Regions from separate parts of the Homo sapiens genome. Here all the other regions are linked to region 1. Evidence: fine-mapped expression QTL. A gene starts in region 1. Each other region holds a variant in brackets. All regions are shown on one strand. Distances are between the middles of the regions. Region 1 holds the start of SLC22A16 (solute carrier family 22 member 16). Region 2 has its middle 32 kb from the start of SLC22A16. Region 3 has its middle 20 kb from the start of SLC22A16.

The links. PIP is the estimated chance that this variant, and not a neighbour inherited with it, causes the effect.
Region 2: its variant is the best candidate, but not a certain one, in a credible set for the expression of SLC22A16 in whole blood (INTERVAL, PIP 0.57).
Region 3: its variant is the best candidate, but not a certain one, in a credible set for the expression of SLC22A16 in whole blood (INTERVAL, PIP 0.87).

Annotation. Positions count from the first base shown.
Region 1 is chr6:110,474,548-110,478,786 of GRCh38, forward strand. SLC22A16 (solute carrier family 22 member 16) reads right to left here and starts at 2,066. Exons shown (of 8, transcript NM_033125.4): 1 at 1,975-2,066. The coding sequence starts at 2,027. It overlaps LOC105377938 (a long non-coding RNA gene), which reads left to right and starts at 970. Exons shown (of 2, transcript XR_942860.3): 1 at 970-1,115.
Region 2 is chr6:110,506,947-110,511,185 of GRCh38, forward strand. No RefSeq gene overlaps it. Among named protein-coding and RNA genes, the nearest start is that of SLC22A16, 32 kb to the left of the region's middle. The variant A/G (reference allele first, on the strand shown) is at 1,904.
Region 3 is chr6:110,494,607-110,498,845 of GRCh38, forward strand. No RefSeq gene overlaps it. Among named protein-coding and RNA genes, the nearest start is that of SLC22A16, 20 kb to the left of the region's middle. The variant A/C (reference allele first, on the strand shown) is at 2,552.

The DNA of each region.
Region 1 (4,239 bases):
GGAACTCAGGTAATGATAATAGCCATGACTTATTGAGAACTTACTGAATAATAAGACTTTTGCATACATTATGGTGGCCAGCTAAGAGCTGTCTCCTCAAACCCATTTGCCCCCTCTTCACCGTAGTGAGCTGTCACCATGGGTGCGCAGCTGCTCCAGGCACAGACAGGGAGCCCCATGCAGTGGATGACAGAGCTGTCCCACCTGCCAGGGTCCTTGAATGGTCTCGTGGCACAGATCCTGCTGTGGGCAGTTACTGGAGAGGCATAAACTTCCATTTGAGGAATCTGTTTGATTGGGCACTTTAGTCAAACACCAACTAATATAATTACCTCAGCTAATCCCTAAAAAACACAGGGGAACTAAGATGTAAGTACCACCTACCTCATTGAGTTACTGTAAGGATGAGAAACTGCATGCAGAGTCCTCATATACACATTTTCACTACTCCTATTTGAAAACATTTGTACTATTATTAGCCCCATTTTACAGATAAGAAAGTGGTAAATAAAATGCTCAAGACCGTATAGTTAATGTGTGGTAGCGCCAGAGTGGGAACTTAGACATCCAGCCTTAAAACTGATCTTTTAACCTCTGTGCTATTCTGCTTCCAGAAGGATGAAATGAGATCATACATAAAGAGCTTGGCCCAGCTGAGGAGCCGTCACCTAACCGTGCTCAGGAGTGCATCATGGTTGAGAGTGTGGGCTGTGGAGGTGATGGGCATCCAATGGCATCCAATTCTGCCCTGCTAGTATTAGATTTGTGCTTAGGCAGAAACCTTGGTTTTCTCATCTGTGAAAAGAGGGTGATACTACCAACCTTATAAGGCTGTAGTGAAGATTAAAGGAAGTAACATGTACCAACGGCTTATGACCGAGCCAGGCACAAGGCAGCGTTCAATGATGCAAGCAGAGGAAGAAGGGAACAGCTGGGGCTTCCTGCCCGTTTCCTCTGTCCTAACAGCTCCTTTTTGCAGACACTGGGAATCAAAACCAAAACGCATGCAACCTTCCACCTTGAAGAACAGCACCACATCATCTCTTTGCTAAGCCTGATTCCCGTTTTCTGGATAGGAAACTGACACACAAAGTATCTCCAGAATCATATCAGAGGTAAGTAGCAGGCCAGGATCGAGACGCAGCTCCAAATCTCCGGCCATAACGCTGCATGGCCCCTCACCCGGCTACCTCCCCTCTCAAAACACTCTGAGTCAGATAGAGGAGCTCTGTCCATGAGTGAACGAACGAATGAATAATTTAAATTTTTTAAATCAATTTGACAAATGAAAAGAGGGTGTACGGAGGTTAAACGTGGTTCCACCATGCGTTGGCTATGAGTCCTTGACCCCGCCAGCTTGTTTCCCAATCACTAAAATAAGGATTTGAACACCTCCTTTGCAGGGTCCCGGTGAACATCAAATGAAGAACTATGTGTAAGCGCCAGGTACAGTGTACCTGGCACGTATTAGGTTTTAATAAACGGCAACCAACTCTGACTAACGGTTGTCCCTGGGGAACACCTGCCAGGCACAGAGGGAGGCCCTACGGAGGCGCAGGGCAGAACTGGGCAGCAGCCGTCTAGGGAAGTGGCGGCGGATTAGAGAAACGGGCGGCCAGGCACAGGCACCCCCTACGAGTGAGATCTGGCCCCTCGAGCCAGATCTCCAGCCAGATGCCTCCAGCATCTGCTGCCGCGGAGAGCACGCACCAGGTCCCTCCTGCCCGGCAACAGGCGCACTCCGAGCGAGCCCAGCGCCTCTGCTCACCATGCCAGGTCCCGCTGCCAGAGGCCTAGAGGAGAAGCCCAGCTAGGGGCCGGCGTCTGGACGCCCGTGTCCCGACTGCGCGGGGTGAGGAGGAAGTGGAGATGTTTTCGGATCGCGAGCGCCGCGCGAGAACCCCGCCGCAACGGAAAGAAACAGACCCCTCGGCGCCGCCTCCCGCGTGGCGCCGCGGGGCCCCTCCCCCATACCTGCCGAAGTGCCCCACGTGGTCATAAATCCCCTCGAAGTGGCGGGACCCCATGGTGCGGCCGTGCACTGGGCGCCGAGTTAGCCGAGCTCCGGGGACTGCGGGTAGCGCGCCCCGCCCCGAACCTCCCCGCCCGGCCTCCTGCTCTCCCCGCGCGTCCCAGTGCTCGGGACCAGCGCGAGGCTGTATTCTGTTCCTCCCTCCGTCGCTTGGCCCCTCGGTCCCCCCAAGTATCTTCGGCTTTTTTCCTGCCGCCTCGGCCTCCTTCCCGGCGCGCTGTGGTCCCGGCGCCCGCGGTCGCATGGTGCCCTCGCCCCCAGCGCCGCCGCTCTCCCACCCGCCCCGCCGCCCACCCTGGCTCTTGGCACCATGTCTGCGGGGTCGCCACGCTCGAGGGAAGCCCCGACGCCTGGGAAAAGTTGTCGCTGAGAGAGAGCCCAGGGTGGGAATGCAAGGGCTAGGCTCGGTCCGGGGGCCGCAAGAATATATAGCCTTCAGCATGACGCCCCTCAGAAACATGGCTCTCAAACTTTAATGCCTAAGAATCTACTGCAGAACTTGGTTTAAAAGGTACATTTAAGGCCGGGCGCACTTGCTCACGCCTGTAATCCCAGCACTTTGGGAGGCCGAGGCGGGCGGATCACCTGAGGTCGGGAGTTCAAGACTAGCCTGACCAACATGGAGAAACCCCGTCTCCACTAAAAATACAAAATTAGCCGGGCGTGGTGGCACATGCCTGTAATCCCAGCTACTCGGGAGGCTGAGGCAGAAGAATCGCTTGAACCCTGGAGACGGAGGTTGCGGTGAGCCAAGATCGTGCCATTGCACTCCAGCCTGAGGAACAAGAGTGAAACTCCGTCTCAAAAAAATAAAAGTACAATTAGGCCGGCGTGGTGGCTCAGGCCTATAATCCCAGTGCTTTGGGAGGCCGAGGCAGGAGGATTGCTGGAGCCAAGGAGTTTGAGACCAGCCTGGGCAACGTATAGCGACACCTCGTCTATACAAAAATAAAAAATAAATAAATGTACATTTATTTTGAGACTCCATCCCTGATGATTCAGGATGCCTGGGGAACAGGAATCTGATTTTTTTTTTTTTTTTTTTTTTTTTTTTTTTTTTTTTTTTTGAGACGGAGTCTCGCTCTGTCGCCCAGGCTGGAGTGCAGTGGTGCAATCTCGGCTCACTGCAAGCTCCACCTCCCGGGTTCAAACCATTCTCCTGCCTCAGCCTCCCAAGTAGCGGGGAGGTGCCCGCCACCACGTCCGGCTAATATTTTGTATTTTTAGTAGAGACGGGGTTTCACCGTGTTAGCCAGGATGATTTCGATTTCCTGACGTCGTGATCCGACCGCCTTGGCCTCCCGAAATCTGATTTTTAATAAGCAGACCATGGCATTCCAAGCCACACTTTGGAGTGGGCAGGGGTTTGGCCCATAGCCAACCCAGGCAGGGGGTGACCTTCCTTCTGGAAGGTATCAAGTGAATGAACTTTAGGGAAGAAAGGTCAATTGCTGGTCCACAGCGCTGAAGCAGAAAAGCCAGTTTCCGACTATATCCACAGTGAGAGTTGCCTTCTCTAGTCAGCCTGGCAGTCACTGGCCCCACTGTTGGCGTGCTATTCCACTCTATAAGGCCACTAAACCTTGAGTTCCTAGAGAACAGGGATGCATTCTCTTCGTCACTTTGGTAGCCTCAGTTCCATAGCAAATGCCCTCTCTCTGAACTTCTCCACCTCATCCTTAAAATCTGAGCACACCTATCGCTTTCTCAGAGAAGTCCAACAGTTTGAGGGCCAGGGCAGAGCTCTACCAGAGCAGAGCATCAAGAGTGGGTCTGATGGCTCCGAGAAGCGGCAGGATCTTGCAAGGCTGTGTTGAACATTTTACTTTGACCAAAGGACAAGGAGAACTCCCTGTAGACAGTCTTAAAGCAGAAGAGTAACAGGCGCAAACTTGTACTTGAATAATATTTGAAAGAGAGGAGAGTCCATTTCCCAAAGTGCTTCCCTCCCCTACTTGTCACAGAGCCTACAATAACACCATTAAAAATTGACTTATTTTTGTTATGCACAATCCTATCTAGACATTCTCTTCTGAAACATAAATACTCTTGGAAGGACTAATCCCTTAAGTAATAAACAACTTGGAGAGGGTTTTTAAATTAGATAGTTTCCTGCTAACTAAAGAGACTTAAGAAAGCCTAAGTTCTTCAGGTGAGGAATGCTAGAGGGATACAAGGTGGGGGGAAGATGAGAGGGTAGTGAGGAG
Region 2 (4,239 bases), 32 kb after region 1:
TATCTGACAAGTAAGAAAAATAGTCTCCCCTGTCCTTCCTGCCCTTCCCAGGTTTTCCATGGGATGCAAGTGAGATAAGGGATTTGAAAAATCATTTAGCCAGAACAGAGCTCTGAAGGAAGGAAATCTGAGGACACACTGGTCCAGCTCACTCGTTTTACAGATGACAAAACCGAGAGAATGCGTGTGGTGGCACATGCCTATAGTCTTATCTACTTGGAAGGCTGAAATGGGAAGATCCCTTGAGTCCAGAAGTTCAAATCCAACCTGGGTAACATAGTAAGACCCTGTCTTTGAAGAAAAAAACAAAGATCCTCAGATCATGTGTGTGTGTGTGTGTGTGTGTGTGTGTGTGTGTGTGTGTAGAGACAAGGTCTCCCTATGTTGCACAGACTGGTCTCAAACTGCCGACCTCAAGTGATCCTCCCACCTTGGCCTCCCAAAATGCTGAAATTATAGGCATCAGCCACTGAGCCCACCCCTCAGGTGCTTTGTTTTTTAAATCAAAATTTATTATCCCTTTGTAAACCAAAAAAAAAAAAAAATTCCAAGACCCCCCAGCCACTTGAATGGACTTCCTACTCAGCCAGGGCTCTTTTAAAATTTACCCTGAGAGATTGTTTCAGGCCATGATGGGAAGTAGTGGTTGGACATGGCTCATTATACCTCTCCAGCATTAACATCAACACAGACTTTAAGTCACATAAGAAACATTTTACAACCTATTCTCTCTGAAGCCGACTACCTGCAGGCTTCCTCTGCCAATAAGAAATTTGGCCTCCACAACCTGTTATCTTAATCCAAACATTATTTTCTATTGATCCCAGGTCTTTAGATAAACTCAACCAACTGCCAACCAGAAAATTTTAAAATCTACTTATAAGCTGGAAACCCCTGCTTCAAGTTGTCCTACCTTTCAGGACCAAACCAATGTATTTCTTTTTTTTTTTTTTTTTTTTTTTTGAGACAGAGTCTCACGTTGTTGCCCAGGCTGGAGTGTGCAGTGGCGCAATCTCGGCTCACTGCAACCTCCACCTCCTGGGTTCAAGCGATTGTTGTGCTTCAGCCTGAGGAGCCAGGATTACAGGCACACACCACCACACCCAGCTAATTTTTGTATTTTTAGTAGAGAGGGTTTCACCATTTGGCCAGGCTGGCCTCGAACTCCTGACCTCAGGTAATCCACCCACCTCAGCCTCCCAAAGTTCTGGGATTACAGGCATGAACCACAGCACCTGGCCTCCAATGTATTTCTTAAATGAATTTGATTGAAGTCTCATGTCTCCTTAAAATATATAAAACCAAGCTGCAGCCTAATCATCTCAGGCACATGTTCTCAGGACCTCCTGAGGGCTCCTTCATAGGCTATGGTCACTCAAAGTTGGCTCAAAATAAATCTCTTAAAATATTTTACAGAATTTGACTCTTCATCAACCACTTGTCCCATTTCTGTAGGAGCCTGCTGTTAGAATCTGACCTGCAAGTAGGAATCTGATAAATTCATTTTTTCAGGAGTTAATAATAGTTGTTGACAGTGTAAGAGTGATATGGACAGGAGACAGAGAAATACTGGGTAGAAGAGGGTGGTTCCCCAGCAAAGGCCCCATCCTCAAGCCTGGATACTCATGGCCCTAAATGGGAACAGGCATTCCTGTTTTCATGCCCCAAAAGTTGTCTTTTGACCCCCCTATCCTGTACCCATATAAACCACAGACCTCAGGTTCCAGAAGCAGATGAGCAGACAAGGAGATGAGAAGATGAACAGAAGAGCAGAAGAACAGCAGAATGATGTGGCAGAGAAGAGAAAGAGCATCTAAACTCCAAGGGAAGATCATCTTCCCACACCATCTCCCTTCTAGCTCCCCATCCATCCCACTGAGATCCACCTCTACCACCCGATAAA[A/G]CCCCCACATTCACTACCCTTCAAGTCCATGTGTGACCTGATTCTTCTGGGATGTTAGACAGGAGCTTGGGATACAGTAAGCTGTCACACTGGCCCTCTGCCCTTGCAAAAAGGCAGAGGATCCACTGAGCTGGTTAACACTTACACCATCTGTGGACATCAAAGCTAAAAGAGTGCACTGTAACACATGCCATGCCCACTTGGGTTTTGGGAGTCACAGGCACCCACTCCAGATGCTGCTATGGGGCTGGAGCCTCAAAGCACTCGCCCCAGCTCCTGTGCCTGCCCTGCTGTGTGCTCCCACTCCTGTTAGGGGTTTGAGTGTGTGGTGACCAAACACATGAGCCATACCCCTGTTGCATGTCCTTTAAGGGTGGTCAGGGAACTCTCCCATTTCAAGAGCACTTCTCCTAGAAATATTTGCAATTTACTTAAGAGATACTACACAGTAGTGGGATTTCTTCTAAGTTTTCTTTCATATTTCTTTGAGCAGATTAATAGATGAGTACTTTTGGATGGGACAGTTTCCAAGTCTTTCTCAATTTGCATGATATACATGGTTGCCTCTCTATATACCATATCTTGCATTGAATATTGGAGAAAAATTGCATTAATGTGTGAGGAAATATCATTGACCTCCCACAAGTGGCCCCCATGCCCCTAAATCTAAAGGATTCCCCTTTAGATATTGAAAACTAGAATACTCAGACATTCTGAAGTCATGAAAGCAGTAAACATCTTCAAAGAGATGAGAAAGTAATCACAGCATATTGGAAAAAACCTTCAAACAGAAGTAAGGAAACCTGAGGTCCATCTCTGACCATGGCAAATTATGTGAACTTGGGTAACTCAGTCTTTCTGAGCATCCCCCCAACTCTCAGTATTACTCAGTATTAATACTTCTGTGTTTGTGTGTGTGTGTGTGTGTGTTTGTATACATAGGTCAAAATTCAAAAGGTACTGTTGTCAGAGGCATTCAAACCAGAGCAACTCCATCTCAAATAAAGGCTGGTTAAAATAAGGCTGAGACCTACTGGGCTGCATTCCCAGGAGGTTAGTCATTCTTAGTCACAGGATGAGATAGAAGGTCTGCACAAGGTACAGGTCATAAAGACCTTGCTGAAAAAATAATGTGGTAAAGCCAACTACATCCCACCAAAACCAAGATGGTGATGAAAGTGACCTCTAGTTGTCCTCACTGCTCATTATACACTAATTATAATGTATTAGCAAGCTAAAAGACACTCCCACTAGTGCCATAACAGTTTATAAATGCCATAGCAACATGAGGAAGTTGCCCTATATGGTCCAAAATGGGGAAGAACCCTCAGTTCCAGGAATTGCCACTCCTTTCCCCGGAAAACTCATGAATAATTCATTCCTTGTTTATCATATAATCAAGAAATAACCATAAAAATGGGCAACCAGCAGCCCCAAGGGTTGTTCTGCCTATGGAGTAGCCATTCTTTTATTCCTTTACTTTCTTAATAAACTTACTTTTACTTCACTGTATGGATTCACCTTGAATTCTTTCTTTCATGAGATTCAAGAACCCTCCCTTTGGGTGTAGATCAGGACCCCTTTTCCTTAACACTGTGGTAAAATATAATAGAAAATATATACTGAGTCTTTGTCCCTGGTTCATGACACAGAGCTCCTAAAACACTTGGAGTTTTCCTCTGTGATAGGGAAAATTGGAGCATCTTTTACTGTTCATAACAAGCCCCTTTCAACTGTACCTGAGTTTATGCTAATAAAGTGACTCCTGGAGGACCTCTGGATAGCTTGAGGATAGGGGCCCTTCTCCTGAAAGACCAAGTCTTGATTAGATGATTGGAACCTTCACTCTCCAACCTCTAGAAAGGGAAAAGGGGCTGGAAATTGAATCGGATCACCATTGGCCAGTGATTTAATCAATCATGCCTATGTAAGAAACTCCATAAAAACCCCTTAACAACAGGGTTTGGAGAGCTCCTGGGCTGGTGAACACATCCAACCCACGCTGGGAGGGTGGCTGGCTCCAACTCCACAGGACAGAAGCCTCTGCTCTTGGGACCCTGCTGGGTCCTACCCTCTGTACCTCTTCCTCTGGCTGTTCACTTGTGTCCTTTATAAAAAACTGGTAAACATAAGTAAAATGATTTCTTGAGTTCTGGGGGACATTCTAGCAAAATACTCAAAATGAGGAGGGATTCATGGGAATCACCAATCTATAGCTAGTCAGAAGTATGGGGCCAGGCGCAGTGGCTCATGCCAGCACTTTGGGAGGCTGAGATGGGCGGATCATGAGGTCAGGAGTTCAAGACCAGCCTGGCTAATATGGTGAAACCCTGTCT
Region 3 (4,239 bases), 20 kb after region 1:
AAGTAAGATAATTATATGCTTTCAACATTGTTGGAAGAGCTGGAGGAGAAGTCAGGGGTCATAACATGAGTACTGGTTTCAAGGTCACACCACCAGAGTTTCAACCCAGAGATCAGGAAGCTGCTGGGCAGCTGCTGTTACCGCCATGGCAGCACCACCACTGCACCACTGCCTCACTCCCGCTTATGAGGAAGATTGAACTGGGAACACTGCACAATTCCAAAAGGAACAATGCAGCCTATGTCATTGGTCATCTCACCCTGTGTCCTCTAAGAAAAGACAAAGTAAGGAATGAAGCGTGGGTCATCTAAGGAACAAAGCTAACCCTGGTTCTTGCCTCGCTGGAACACCTGCACTGCTCTTATGATGGCCTTTCTTAAAAGGACGTTTATTTTCTGACTCCCATTTCCCTCCACCTCTCTTCCATCCTGCTGCTTCCAATTCTCTTTAGCTTCTTTAAGCAACTACAAGTGGCCAGTTGCTATCAAAGACTAGGAGAAGGTTTAAAGGAGGGATATTCATAAGATTTGGTCCTTCATTTAATAAGTACGTGTGTTACCTGCATCTTCTCTGCGTGCAGGGGCAAAAATGAGTTTAAGATGTAATCCTTTATGTAAAAACATACATACATGGCACCAGACACTGTGCTAAGCCCTTAGCATTCATTATCCCATTTACTTCTCTCAGATCTCTAAGATCAACACTGCTGTCATCCTCATATTCAGATAAGAAAAATGAGACTCAGAGAGAATGGGTAGTCTTTTTAATGTCACCCAAGCTCTAGAGTTGCAGAGACAGATTCAAACCCAGCCCTGTCTTACCCCAAAGCCACTGCCCATTCCATGACAGTGGCATTTCTTGTTATCGAAAAGTGTGGTGTTTTGCCGAGATGCCATCAAAATAACTAGAACCTAAATCTGGTAACTTCAAACTGTCAGTTCCCCACTCTCCCTAAGAAATGCCTACAAGTTCCTGTGCCATCAGCGCTCAAAGGCAGCCGACTGGCCTGGGGGTCAAATCAAAAGCCTTAAGACTCCAGGGAGGAAGTACTTGCTTCTGAGTATGGTAGACTTCCAGAAAGACTCAACATTTGATCCAAGATTGGAAAGATAAGTAAACATTGCCAGGCAGAGGTGGGGCAAAGAGCATGTTCCAGGTAAAGATGCAGATGTGGGAAAACCCAGGACCTGTTTGAGGGGCGTGTGGAACACGCTGGAAACAGCAGCAGATGAGGAGAGGACAAGTGTGTGGCGCTTAGCCTAGTGCCCGGCACATAGGAAGTACCGGGTACATTTTCCTGGAAGGCCTTGGAACTCATCGTTAAGAGAGCAGCCTCGGAGTCAGAGGCCTGGCTGTAAATTCTGTCTCTACCACTTAAAAACTGTGAGGCCTTGGGCACTGGCTTATCTCTCAGGTGTCACTTCCCCATCAAAATGGTGAACTAACAGTCTTGCCTCATGGTGGTCATGAGGATCAAATGACATAGGCCCTCTTAAGTGCTCTCTCTGGCGTCCTAATTAGGGAAAGGGAGTCAGGCTGGTGGGAGCAAGGGAAAGCAAAAAGAAGAAGCAGATAAGCTACAAGTCTGCCTTTCTATATGCTCCAGGACACACAGCCCTCCTACACAAATAACTCACAATCTTCCTACACCGAGCTATCACCAGACCTTCAGCTGATACGAAAAAATGCAAGTTAGCTCCCTGCAACCTTGGCGTTAATCAGTACTGAATGAGACACTCTGCAGCCTCAGAACCAACCTATAAAACCTCCAGCAAGCCTTTGTTTCTTTGCAGTCAGCGCCTCTTCTGCTGAGCCTGCCCGTTGCTTCCTGGAAAGGTATTTTCATACTTTCTCTAATGAATCTGCCTTTTTCTACCTACAACTGCCTTGGTAAATTTTTTTTTTTTTTTTTTTGAGACGGAGTTTCACTCTTGTTGTCCAGGCTGGAGTGCAATGGCGCAACCTCAGCTCAGAGCAACCTCCGCCTCCCGGCTTGAAGCGATTCTACTGCCTCAGCCTCCCGAGTAGCTGTGATTACAGGCATGCGCCACCATGCCTGGCTAATTTTGAATTTTTAAAGAAGCAGGGTTTCTCCACGTTGGTCAGGCTGGTCGCCAACTCCTGACCTCGGGTGATCCGCCCGCCTCAGCCTCCCAAACTGCTGGGATTACAGGCGTAAGCCACCGCACCCGGCCTGTCTTGGTAAATTCTTTTATCTCCCCGCCACCTGTCCAGATAGTCGTCGCTCGCCTCCGACACTTTCTTCATGGCTTCAGCTGCAAGTAACAGCAAACCCAACTCAAACAGGCCGAAGAAAACAAGGGACGTTTTTGACTCACTCTGGGAAAAGTCCAGAGGTGGAACAAGCCCCACGTGCCATGGGATCCAGAGAGACAGTGTCATCAGGTCTCCCTTTCTCTCTCATTCTCCATCACTTCTCCTCTCTGCTTCTCTGTGTAGATTTCAAACCCAGAAGAGAGAAGCCCCCTCTCCACCACACCTACACATCACATTTCAGAAAGCTAAGGATGGGGCCGGGCGCGGTGGCTCA[A/C]GCCTGTTATCCCAGCACTTTGAGACGCTGAGGCAAGAAGATCACCTGAGGTTAGGAGTTCGAGGCCAGCCTGACCAACATGGCGAAACCCTGTCTCCACTAAAAATACAAAAATTAACCAGGCGTGGTGGCACTTGCCTGTAATCTCAGCTACTCTGGAGGCTGGGACAGGAGACCAGCTTGAACCCAGGAAGCAGAGGTTTCAGTGAGCCAAGATAGTACCACTGCACTCCAGCCTGGGCGATAGAGCAAGACTCCATCTCAAAAAAAAAAAAAAAAAAAAAAGAAAGAAAGCTGAGAGTGGCGGTGGGGCGGCAGAGAGTAGAATGCTCGGATTGGCTGGCCTGTGGCCAGGCTGTGAAAAGCTCTCATTGGCTGGCCCATGGCCAGGCTGTGAAGGGTTCTGATTGGCTGGCCTGTAGCCAGGCCGTGAAATGCTCTGACTGGCTGGCCTGCATCATATGCTCATCTCTCATCAATAGCAGCGCAACACTTCAGAGACTGGGAGAGGAAGTGGGGGAGAAAGCACATTCCTGGAAAGGGATTTTAGATGGACAAATTAACATTTAGATGCTTTTAACAGAGTACCTGGCTTGTGATAAGTCAATAAAGTTGGGGCCACAAGGAGGAGGGGAGCCTTGAATTCTAGGCCAAGACTACTGAGCTTTAGTTAATGGACAGTGGGGAGCTTACTGAAGTTTTTGTCCAGAGTGGTGCTGTCAGAAGATTGGTCTGATAATGGGGTGTAGCAGAGAGTGGAGGAGGGTGGAGAAGCTGATGGCAGAAAGATTCTCTGGGAGCCTAGTATTCACCATCCAGGTTAAAGAGATGATAGTAGATACAGAATAAAGGGCTTCACTCAATGATGGAGAAGAATGACAGGCTATGGGAACCTACTCCCTGGGGTCAGCAAATAAACGTGAGGAGGGGAGAGGAGGTTACAAGCCTGAGTATCTGACAGGATGGTGGTCTGACCTTTCCAGCTTCTCTCTTTCCTCCTCCCTCTTTTCCGCCTTTCCCTCCCTCCCCACTCTCTTTCAAAATGATGCATGTTTCCCTCTTATCCTGGACAGCACAGTCTTTCTCTGATGTATTTCACGTGCACACCTGCTGAGGGCTCTACCTGGAGCAGTTTTGAAAGGATTGGTTCCTAAACAAATGCAGTGAATTAAGAAAGGTTCCAGTGAATGAAATGTTTTCCCTCTTAGCATAAAAAAAAGAAACAAACAGGGGATCTGTAGAATGTGCAAAAGACCTGGAATACCTACTATCAGTCTCTTTCAAAGAACATGAAATGGATAAAATTTTGGCCTAGGAACCTTGAGTGTTATAACATGTTGATGTTAGAAATGCAAAGAATGTAGCAGAAGATGGGTTCTGCCAGCATCAGTAGAGAGGTGAAAGGTGTGTGTGCATCTGTGTGTGTGTGTGTGTGTGTGTGTTTACAGGTCTGTGAGTGAGCTGAAGAATAACAACTAACACCTTCGAGATAGCTAGCTGCTTCCCACAGTGACACTGACCAAAGTTATCAAAAAAATAAGGAGCAGGTCTGAGGAAGGCAACAGAGAAATTTTTCGAGCTCTGCTTCCAAAGTGTATTTCTTAAGGGGCTGGGGTGTGAAGCAGACGGTTGCGGAATGTGATGCACTGAAGCTACCTGGAAGCAACCTGTCCCTGCTCCACGGAGCC